Regions from separate parts of the Homo sapiens genome. Here region 2 is linked to region 1. Evidence: fine-mapped expression QTL. A gene starts in region 1. The other region holds a variant in brackets. All regions are shown on one strand. Distances are between the middles of the regions.

Region 1 (5,378 bases):
GACCCTCCAACCCCCCAACAAAGATTCAGGTTCTAGTACTCTGCCACTGTGCAGAACTCAAGGGTTTGGAGTCACAGACCACAGAGGTCAAATACAGTTCCAATGCTTACTAGCCTTGTAATCTTATGACTTAATTTCTCTGAGCTTCAGTTTCTGCCTCTGAAAAATGGGAGCACATCATCTTATGGCATCATTGTGAGTATTAAAAAGCATAGTTAGCACCTATGACAGGATCTACTGCATTGTAAGTATTAAATAAATGGGATTTTTGCCTACTTTTCTCCCCATGTGATGGAAATAATACTTTCCCTGGGTTCCTGTTAGTATATTAAGAAAATTCCAAGGCTGGAATTATGCAACATTAAAATTAGAAGGAACCAAGGGCTGTCAATTTTACCTCTAAATCTTTTCTCGAAATCTTCCATTTCTTAGCATTTCTCCTAGTATCAAGCTGGTATAGGCTACCATCATCTCTCATCCTATTACAATGACCTCCTTCAAACCAGCCCTCAAAATCTCTATCTCTTCACCCTCTCCTCACTCCATTCTTGCATAGCAACAAGACACATGCTTAAAACTCTCTCATGTGCACTTAGAATAAAATCCAAACTTTATCATAGCCTTCAAGACCTGACACGGGCTGACTTGCCCAAATTTATATTTGCCACTTTCCCTCTTGCTCACTTCCCAGTACAATGTCCTTCTTTCAGAATTTTAGTAGTTACCCTCCTTGCCTCTGGGCTTTCCCATGTGCCTCTGTCATTTTGTCTCAAGGCATTCTGTAGGTCTTCATAGAACTCATAACCACTGTAATTAAATAATGAGGTTCATAGTTAGTTGTTTAATGTCTGTCTCCTGGATCATGTTCACCATTGTATCCCCAATACTTGGGACAGTGCCTGACACAGGGCAGGTATTCAATAAATATCTATTGAAGAGTAAATGAAGAGACATCTTGCCCAAATGCTTCATTTGTAGATTAGAAAGCTACAGTTAGGATACGCTACAGTTAGGATACAAGTGACTTGCCTAAGGCTGGAGCACCAAGAGTTCTTTTTTCCCAGGCCAATATTCTTTTTTTTTTTTTTTTTTTTTTTGAGACAGAGTCTCGCTCTGTCGCCCAGGCCGGACTGCGGACTGCAGTGGCGCAATCTCGGCTCACTGCAAGCTCCGCTTCCCGGGTTCACGCCATTCTCCTGCCTCAGCCTCCCGAGTAGCTGGGACTACAGGCGCCCGCCACCGCGCCCGGCTAATTTTTTGTATTTTTAGTAGAGACGGGGTTTCACCTTGTTAGCCAGGATGGTCTCGATCTCCTGACCTCATGATCCACCTGCCTTGGCCTCCCAAAGTGCTGGGATTACAGGCGTGAGCCACCGCGCCCGGCCTTCCCAGGCCAATATTCTTTTGCTCCACTTAACTCTGAGGTCCCTTCTACCTTTAACGTTCTGTTATCTCTGAAAATACAATAAAGTGTGAAAATATCTTACAGATGGAAGATACCTCTTTTTCGTTTTGTACAATACATTTGGCTCTATTTCCCACTCCCCCACCGGGCACTTTTATTATCCTGTTTCTCTGCTTCCTCCTAAAGTTAAATTTAACATATTTACTGCATAATCTAGTAGGTGAAGCAGATAATTCCTGTAAACAAGGAATCATATCCAATAAGGTAAATGCAAAGGCAAGATGAATGAAGCACAGAGAAAGTACAGCATAGGCTGTACTTTTTTGTGCAGGGAGTAGTAACGAAAAAAATTGTTGTGCAGGGAGTAGTAAAAAAGGAATCACAGAGATGATTAACTTGAGATAGCTTTTGAAGGATGATAGGCGTTTGCCAGGTGAAGGAAACATTCCAAGCAAGGGAAACAGCACGTGTACAGAGGCACTGCATCCATTCAACACATACTGAGTGCCTACCAGCAACTCCAAGCTGCTTTCTCTACGTGGGAAAATGCATAGGTCACTGAACTCCACAAATGGTAGTTGGTACTGCCACAGAGAAGAGGAAGCTGCAAATGTAGTGGAAAGCAAGGGTTAGATCAGAGCACCTTGTACGCCACGCTCAAAGGCACGTACTTTGATCTATAGAGATGGAAATCCACGGAAGACTTTTGAGCAAAGAAGTGACAACCTCTGATTTACATCTGTTTTGAGTTTCCACTCAGTTTGGATCACGCCCCAGATTCAATAAGGAAGACAGAAAAAATGCCTCGAGAATCTGCATAGGCCAAACACAACACACCAAACAGTCACACATGCGAACATACTAGGTATTTACAACAACTTGCTGAGATGGTTGGGCAGAACTCACTACCGCACAGTTAAAGAGAAAGCTTGGAAATAGTTACGTGACAAACGTTGAGGTGCCCAGGCCCGGCGCCCCAGGGTTCCCGGACACCGCCCGAGGCCTCCCCACCCTCCGGCACACACCCGCTCACCTCTGCAAGTTCTCGATCTCAGCCGGGATGCTCTGCAGTTGGTTGCCGCCCAGGCTCAGGGTCTGCAGCGCGCGCAGCTCTAAGAGCGAGGCAGGCACCTCCTGGAAACAGTTGCCGCTGAGGTTGAGCACCTGGAGGCTGCGGCAGAGCGGCGACTGGGCCAGGCCCTTGGGCAGCGCACTGGGCCCGCCGAGCCGGTTGTTCTTGGCCAGCAGCGTGCGCAGGCCGCGCAGAGCGAGCAGCTCCGGCCCGAGCGCGGTCAACGCGTTGCCGCTCACGTCCAGCAGCTGGAGGTGCGGGAAGCCGCTGCCCAGCGCCCGTGGCAGCGACACCAGACGGTTGTGAGGCAGCAGCAGCCGCAGCAGCGCCTCCCGCGCCCCGCGCCGCTCCTCCCCCCGCGCCTCCAGCTCAGACTCCAGCGTCTCGGTGGACACGCTGAGGCGGGACCAGTTCAGTTCGGCCTCCCCGGCCGTGACCACCGCTGCTCCGGCCTCCTCCATCCTGGCCACCGCACGGCGCGTGGCGCCGGATTCCCCAGAGCGCCGCGCGCGGTCCAGAGGCCGGGAGCTCTGCGGCGCCCCGGAACCTGAACCGAGGGCTGAGTCGGAAGTGGCGCGGGCGGGCGCAAACCCTGCGCGCCTTGGCCGAGTCACGCGACGCGAGTCCTGGGGTGCGCGCGCCGCTCCGGGGCGGGCTCTGCCTCACGAGGCGCGGGGCGCGGAGTGGCAAGAGCGCAGCATGGGCTGCGCAGAACTGAGGCAGACACCCAGAGGCTGCCAAATTGTCATCTGAGCCGGACCGGGTTTCGGCGGCCGCGCTTTATAGTCGCTGGAGCCTGGTGACCTATTCCAGGGCTACAAGACTGCCTCGGCAAACAGCCCAAGGATGTTCGGTTATCTCGCCTTGAGGGTTCGCGCGTCACGTGCCCCCCCCGTCCCCCGCTTGTTTTTCAGTTTAAAAGTGGGGCCCGTGTCTGCAGGACTCTGTGAGCACACAGTAATTTAGTGGTGATTTAGCTCCATGACAGAAAACCGCAGGAATTTAAAGTCCGAGGATTAACAAAGCCGACCTCGAAATGTGAACGCAGCTGGACTAGACCTCAGAACCCCCGGACCCTTACTGGAGGTTCCGCTGTTAAATAGCCTAGGGCAGGGATTTGATTTCAGTTGCCCCATGCATAAAATATGGGTAACACCCGCACTACTTGCCCCACAGAATTATTTTTTTCTTTTTTAAGGCAGAAATGTGTATCAAGTAAGGACGTTTTGCCCGTTTTAATTGTAGAAGCACATACGTGGCTTTTGGTGTAAGTTGTGTCTAGGAGTGAATTTGGGAGATATGGAGGCGGTTGCATGATTTGAGATAGCTCAAATTAATGAGTTAGTTTAAAAACTCAAAGCATAGAGTTTGTACTGCAGGTCAAAACTACAGTTTGGGAAAATCCTGATCTGGTACTAATTTAGTAATTCTAATTAACGTATTTTTCATCCTTGTCCCAAACTCAATCTTTTCTGAAATTACATTTTATGATTTTGAAAAGTAATGAATAGAAATGAGAAAAAATGCTTAGCTTTTTTTTTTTTTAACAAAGCTTATACATAAGAAAGTTAAGTGGTCGTGTATAATCAACGACATTAAATTGCTTTCCTCCTTAAAAAAGGAAAGTCGTTTTTTTCTTGCCAGTCATTTATTTGTATGAGAAACTATGCCTTTACTCTGCAGTCAAACTTTAATTTCTGATTGAGTGGTAGTCCTAGAAGGACGTACTTTGTATGTTTAAGCTAATGGTGGAATGCTTTTTAAAACTGATGAGTCATCTGTTTTGAAAGAGTCCTTTTAAGAACAGACCTTATTTTGGGTCAAGCCAGCATTCTAACAGTAGTCCTAATATCTGAAAATAACAAATATTTAAAATAATAGTTGTTTTTGCTTTAAAATATTTATCTTGGATTTTAAAAAGTGATAGGAACGTAATGTAAAATGAGAAAAAGAAAGGATTCAAACATAATTCAGAAATAAGAGTTGGCCAGGTGCCATGGCTCATGCCTGTAATCCCAGTGCTTTGGCCCAGGCCAGCAGATCGCTGAGGTCAGGAGTTCCAGACCAGCCTGGCCAACATGGGGAAACCCCGTCTCTACAAAAAATACAAAAATTAGCCGGGCCTAGTGGCGCTCGCCTGTGGTGCCAACTACTACACAGGCTGCTGGGAGGATTGTTTCAGCCTAAGAGGTAGAGGTTGCAGAGAGCCATGATTGTGCCACTGCCCTGCACTTTTTTTTTTTTTTGTCTCAAGAAAAATAAAATAAGAGGTAAGATTACAAATCAGTGGAATTAAAGGGAAAAAGATAACCTCAATAATAGCAAATGAGGCTTCCTAGTAGAAAGTTTGGAAAAAAATACTTAGTATGGGAACTCCACATTATATAGAATAAAGGAAAGGAAGTAGAAAAAAAGTGGTGTAGGTAAAGAAATGAGTAACCTGACAAATTTTGAAAACCTACTGCTTGCAACGCTGTACTAGGAGCTTTTAATTTAATAAAGTCTCCAACTATTTGGTTGTTGAATTTAGGATAAATGTAACCAGACCATTGAGCAGCTAAGATAACTGAGAAACTGCTTTCTAAAAGTTGAAAACTGTGTTTCTGCCTCATTGAAGCTATTGGCAAGGAAACTGTAAATTTCAGTGTAAAATGCACATCTCATGTCCAATTAGAGTAGGTTCCTACTTACATAGAATGACTATCTTTATTCATTTTTGGATTCTCCCTCACACCACCACCATCCCCCATTGCCTAGTATGATTTCTTGCAAATAATTTGGATTGACTGAGTTGGATATATCTCTTAGTTAGTGGACTTATTTTTTGAATAATTAGAGTAAATTGTAAAGTCCTTGAAAAGAACTGTCTTATTATTATATACCCATCCCCTAACAGTGCCT
Region 2 (5,378 bases), 37 kb before region 1:
ATTTGCTATATACCAAATTTATCCAATTCTGAAAAAAAAGTTTAAGTTTTCCAATATAATTTTATTTAATCAAATTCTTCTTTTATTTCTTACAGGTTTTGCTTCATATATCTAGCTATTATGTTGTTTTGTATCTGCACTTACACATTCTCCATCTGTAATTATCTAGATATCTTTTGTCTATATATGTCTTTATATTGATTTATTTGTTCTACATTTTGTTGCTCACTACTGAAGCAGTGTTGTTTGTCTGGGGTAATACCCCAGGTTCATTGCCTCACACCAAGGAAATCAAGGAAACGGACTAAGAAGGAGTGAGTTTAAGAGTGAAAGTTTAATAGGCAAAAGAGAAAAGCTCCCTTGTGCAGAGGGAGGGGGTTCCAAACGGATCTCCCGGAACCTGGCAAGATGCGGCTGGTTTTACGGATGGGCTTGAGGAGGTGGTGTCTGATTTGCAGAGGGTGCAGAGAATTGGTTGGACCAGGTGTGTCATTTGTATAGCATCTGAAGAGGCTGGCCACTGCACCCTAATCTTTTATTATGCAAAGGAATTTTCTACCTGGCTGGCACCATGTTCCCTGTTTCTTTACTGCACACATGGTGACAAAGAAAATGGAAGATGGAGCTTCCATGTTGAACATGCCTGGCCCCAGATAGCCTTTTCCTATTGGCACAGCTGCCGGCATTCACCTGCACAAGCTTCCAGCTTGCTTATCTATGTCTGCAGCTCGATTTTACTGGCTGCTGTTTGTTAGAAAAGAAATGGTTTTGGGGCTGTTTTTTGTTAAAAGTGAAGCCTCACCGAGGACTCTCTTACCCTCACTAACTGCCTAAATAATTTCTTTTCAGCTCCTATATCTCTACCATTTCTTCCCTTCTTTATCATCTTGTAGTTTCTCTTATGGTTAATCTATCATCTGGCTAGAGTCACTTCTTAAGTATTTTCTTAGGGTGGGAAAATGTAGGCATTAGTCTTTGACTTCATACATACCTACAAATAATTTCTTCCTATCACTCTGACAACTAAATGATTCTTTGGCTGGTCAAGAAATTCTTGAGTTGGAGTCCTTGCATTTCAGAAGTCTGCAGATATTCCACTAACTTCTAGCTGCTGCTGATGCACAAGAAGTCTGATTCTGTTTGCATTATAATTAATAAGGCAATTTATTTTTTCTGAGTGGAAAAGTTTGTAAAGATTTCTTTTTTTCCTTAGAGTTCCAGAATCTTTCCAGAATATTGCTAAGGGTGTGTGTGTGTGTGTGAATTTATCAATCAAGCCTGGACTTGTTGAATCCATTTAATCTGTAGATTCAGGTATTTCTTGGTCCAAAAATTTTTCTCCTTTCTTATGTTGCTTTTCCTTCTATGTGTCTTTTTCCCCATCTGGATCTCCCAATATAATATGCTAAACTTCTTGGATCTATCCTCAAAATGTCACATATCCTTTCTCTCATGATTTTAATTGCTTTTGTGAACCCAGAAAATCTGAAACAGGTCTCAATTAATTTAGAAAGTTTATTTTGCCAAGGTTGAGGATGCGTCATGACACAGCTTCAGGAAGTCCTGATGACATGTGCCCACAGTGGTCAGGGCAAAGCTTGGCTTTATACATTTGGGGAGACATGAGACATTAATCAATGTATGTAAGAAGTACATTGGTTCAGTCTGGAAAGGCAGGACAACTTGAACTAAAGGCAGGAAGCAGGGAGGGAGCTTCCAGGTCACAGATAGGTGATACACAAATGGTTACATTTTTTTGAGTTTCTGATTAGCCTTTCCAAAGGAGGGTAAGTCAGATATGTATCTATGTCGGTGAGCAGAGGAGTGACTTTGAATAAAACGGGAGGCATGTTTGCCCTAAGCAGTTTCCAGCTTGAGTTTTCCTTAGTGATTCTGGGGGCCTAAGATATTTTCCTTTTATACTTTATATCTTTCCTCCTTGTTCTAAGCTATTTTCCCCATTTGATCATCTAGCCCACTAATTTGGGTCTCAACAGTGATCATCTCCTTTCACTCATGTAAGGAATTTGAAGTTGCAAAATCTTTTATTTCTTTTTTTTTTCCTTTAGATATTAATATATTGTTTTTTGCTTTGTTGACTCAGTGGGGCTCATGATTGGTTGTGGAGTATCCTGAGAAGCAGGAGTCATAGTAAGGGAGGAGAACACCCCTCTTATTGTCTTATGCCCAATTTCTGCCTCCAAAGAAAAAAGAATTAAAAACTGAAGGGCAGAAATGAAATCCACAGGCAGGCAGCCCAGCAACGTGCCTTGGGCCTAGTAGTTAACAATCAACTCCTGACTTAACTGCTTGTGTCCCAGACATTGTATGGAAAAGCATCGTGAAAATCCCTGTCCTGTTCTGTTCCATTCTGATTACCGGTGCATGCAGCCCCCAGTCAGGTACCCCCTGCTTGCTCAATCGATCATGACCCTCTCACTCGACCTCCTTAGAGTTGTAAGCCCTTAAAAGGGACAGGAATTGCTCACTCGGGGAGCTCGGTTTTTTTGAGACATAAGTCTGCTGATGCTCCTGGCCAATAAAGCCCTTTCCTTCCTCAACTCGGTGTCTGAGGGGTTTTGTCTGTGGCTTGTCCTGCTACATTTCTTGGTTCCCTGATCTGGAAGCAAGGTGATAAGCGGATGGTCGAGGCAGCCCCTTAGGCGGCTTAGGCCTGCCCAGTGGAGCATCCCTGTGGGAGACTCTGGCCAGCTTTGGCGATGCGAATCCTGAGAGCGCTCCCCGGTAGGCAATTGCCCCAGTGGAACGCCTCCAGAGCACTGCACGGTAGGCCCCCGCGGAGGATTAATGCAGCGGCTGAACACCGGGAAGGAATTGGCGCTTGGAGTCCGGACATCTGGAACACGGTAAGACCGGTCTTCGAACTTGCCCACTCCATCTGAGTGGAAGTGTGGCCTGATCACCCAT[G/A]GCGTGCCTTTTTGGCACCTTGGTTTTGGTTTTGATTTTGACTAGATTTGCACTGTTTTGGTTTAGATTTCAGTATTGACTTTTGGTTTTGAACTGTTTTGGCTTTGATTTCGGTTCTGACTTGGCTCAAATTGCTTGATGAATAAGTAACTCCTTATCCATACTTTGGTTTTAGTGTGAATTGCTTGGTGAGTGAGTGACTTTTTGCCCCTTTTTCCCTTCCCTCTTTGTGGTAAGAGTGTTGTTTTGTCTCCTGAGGAAAATGAGTAAAACACAAAGTAAGCCTACCTTGTTAGGAACTATGTTAAAGAATTTCAAGAAAGGATTCAATGGGGTTAATTTTGCCACATATCACCTTGTGAGGTTTATTATAGGAGGGTGTAGGTAGTTTGTTTATGCTTCCCACGACCTCCCACTGTGCGGTCCAGATGGTTTGTAATTGGGGTTTGCTTACTGCAGCAAGGTCTGATAAGTGAAGTCTGCTGGCTTCACCGTGGTGCCTAGACAAGGGCTTAGAAATGTAAAGAGACTTGGGGGAAGTGTGGGCAGCACCAAGAAGCTTTCTTGGGGGAGTCTGTCCCTAACAACTCCTGTGTGCCTTGACGTTTATAGTGGTGGGAAGAACTGTGGATTGGGAGAAAGTGAGAGCAGCAAGATTTTAGAGCCAGACCAAGGTACAAAAATAACATAATGGGTAGTGCACACGTCTTAGTGTCACTGTGCTTCTCTGATGACATAAACAATTTAAAAGTTATCTGCACATCTAATATGGCTAGCACAAATCACAAGAACCTTAGAAAATACTTCCTTTGGCTGGGTGTGGTGGCTCATGCCTGTAATCCCAGCACTTTGGGAGGCCAAGGCGGGTGGATCACCTGAGGTCAGGAGTTCGAGACCAGCTTGACCAACATGGAGAAAACTTGTCTCTACTAAAAATACAAAATTAGCCAGGCTTGGCAGCACATGCCTGTAATCCCAGCTACTTGGGAGGCTGAGGCAGGAGAATCACTTGAACCCAGGAGGTGGAGGTTGCAGTGAGCTGAGATTGCACCATTGCACTCCAGCCTGGGCAACAAGAGCAAAACTCTTGTTTCAAACGTCTCAAAAAAAAGAAAGAAAGAAAGAAAAGAAAGAAAATGCTTCCTTTAGTGACCATTGTTAAGCTTCAGAATTCCTAAAGAAGAAAAATCTTCTGGGAGTTATTTAAACATAGGATATGTTTTTACCCTAATGGATTAATTGTCCTTTTGCAAAAAGTGGTGTGATGATGACTTCTCAAGTTCTTGCTGCTAATCCTTTGATTCTATGTTTTCTTAGAACTAGAAAGAAATTCCTGGCTCTCTCTCTAAGATGGCCAACTACACGCAGCCAGGAGGAACATCTCCCCCCAAGGGACTAGGACATCCGAAGACTGGCAGACCTTGTCTGACCAGCAGAGTGCTCCAGCAGAGTGGCCCCTATGGACACACACCAGCCTGCCTGTGCCCTCCCTCCACTGCAGCCTCCCCCATGCCACTTTGACTGCATGCACTTGCCCACAGCCACCCCCTGCATCACTGTGCCAGTGTATGTGTATGAAGGCAGACTTTGCCTTACCTTCCCTGCCAGTATGTGTGGGTGTGTGCACCCTGCCATGTCACTGCTGCCAGGGTGACTGCACCCTGCTCCCCTCCCCCGTCACAATGCCATTGTTGTCAGATGGTGGTGAGCATGGAGCTTGCCAGTCCTACCCCTGCAAGTGCCCTGCCTCTGTGCCAACACTGCCACTGGCACATAACTAGTCATGGAGAATAGTGAACCCACCCTTGCTCTGACCAGCCACTGCTGTGGGTGTGAATGTGCACAGAGACCTCACACAGTCCTGCACCCTCCAGTGCCCCAACCCTGTACTAATACCACCACCAGAGGAACATGCACACAGCCCCATGAAGGCTGCCACCCTAGTACCCACTAGTACCCTGCTGTAGCTGATGAGCATGCAGTATGCATCCCACCATGCTGCTGCTGCTGCTGCAGCTGGCACAGGCAAATTAGGACAGATCACACTGTCACCCTGCTATGATGTGCTTTGGATGGCATCACCCATTAGAGTATTGTGACCAGTAGTCTGGGAACACCTTGGCCCCTCCAGCACAATAGGTTCATAACCTCGAGGAGCCAGAGAACAAAGTTGGGGCTCAATACCAGTCTCCCAGAGTTAGAACATGCAGTCCAGGAGTCCTGAGCTGAAGCTTGGCCCCCTAAAATCTTCCAGAAATGAAGTCAGTCACCTGAACCCAACACTACTATAATCAGGTCCCCAAGGTCACCAAATAGGATAAAGACAAAAAAGACAGCAACTTCAAAGATGGAAAGAATAAAAGCCCACAAATATAAGAAAAAACCAGCACCATAACTCTGACAACTCAAAAAGCCAGAGTGCCTTCATTCCTCCAAACAACTGTACTTGT

What was found. PIP is the estimated chance that this variant, and not a neighbour inherited with it, causes the effect.
Region 2: its variant is the best candidate, but not a certain one, in a credible set for the expression of LRRC58 in whole blood (INTERVAL, PIP 0.75).

The regions. Positions count from the first base shown.
Region 1 is chr3:120,346,306-120,351,683 of GRCh38, forward strand. It overlaps LRRC58 (leucine rich repeat containing 58), which reads right to left and starts at 3,049. Exons shown (of 4, transcript NM_001099678.2): 1 at 2,439-3,049. The coding sequence starts at 2,938. It also overlaps the pseudogene BTNL12P. RefSeq lists an enhancer at 2,315-2,364 and a silencer at 2,715-3,044.
Region 2 is chr3:120,309,313-120,314,690 of GRCh38, forward strand. No RefSeq gene overlaps it. Among named protein-coding and RNA genes, the nearest start is that of GPR156, 27 kb to the left of the region's middle. RefSeq lists an enhancer at 4,037-4,640. The variant G/A (reference allele first, on the strand shown) is at 2,929.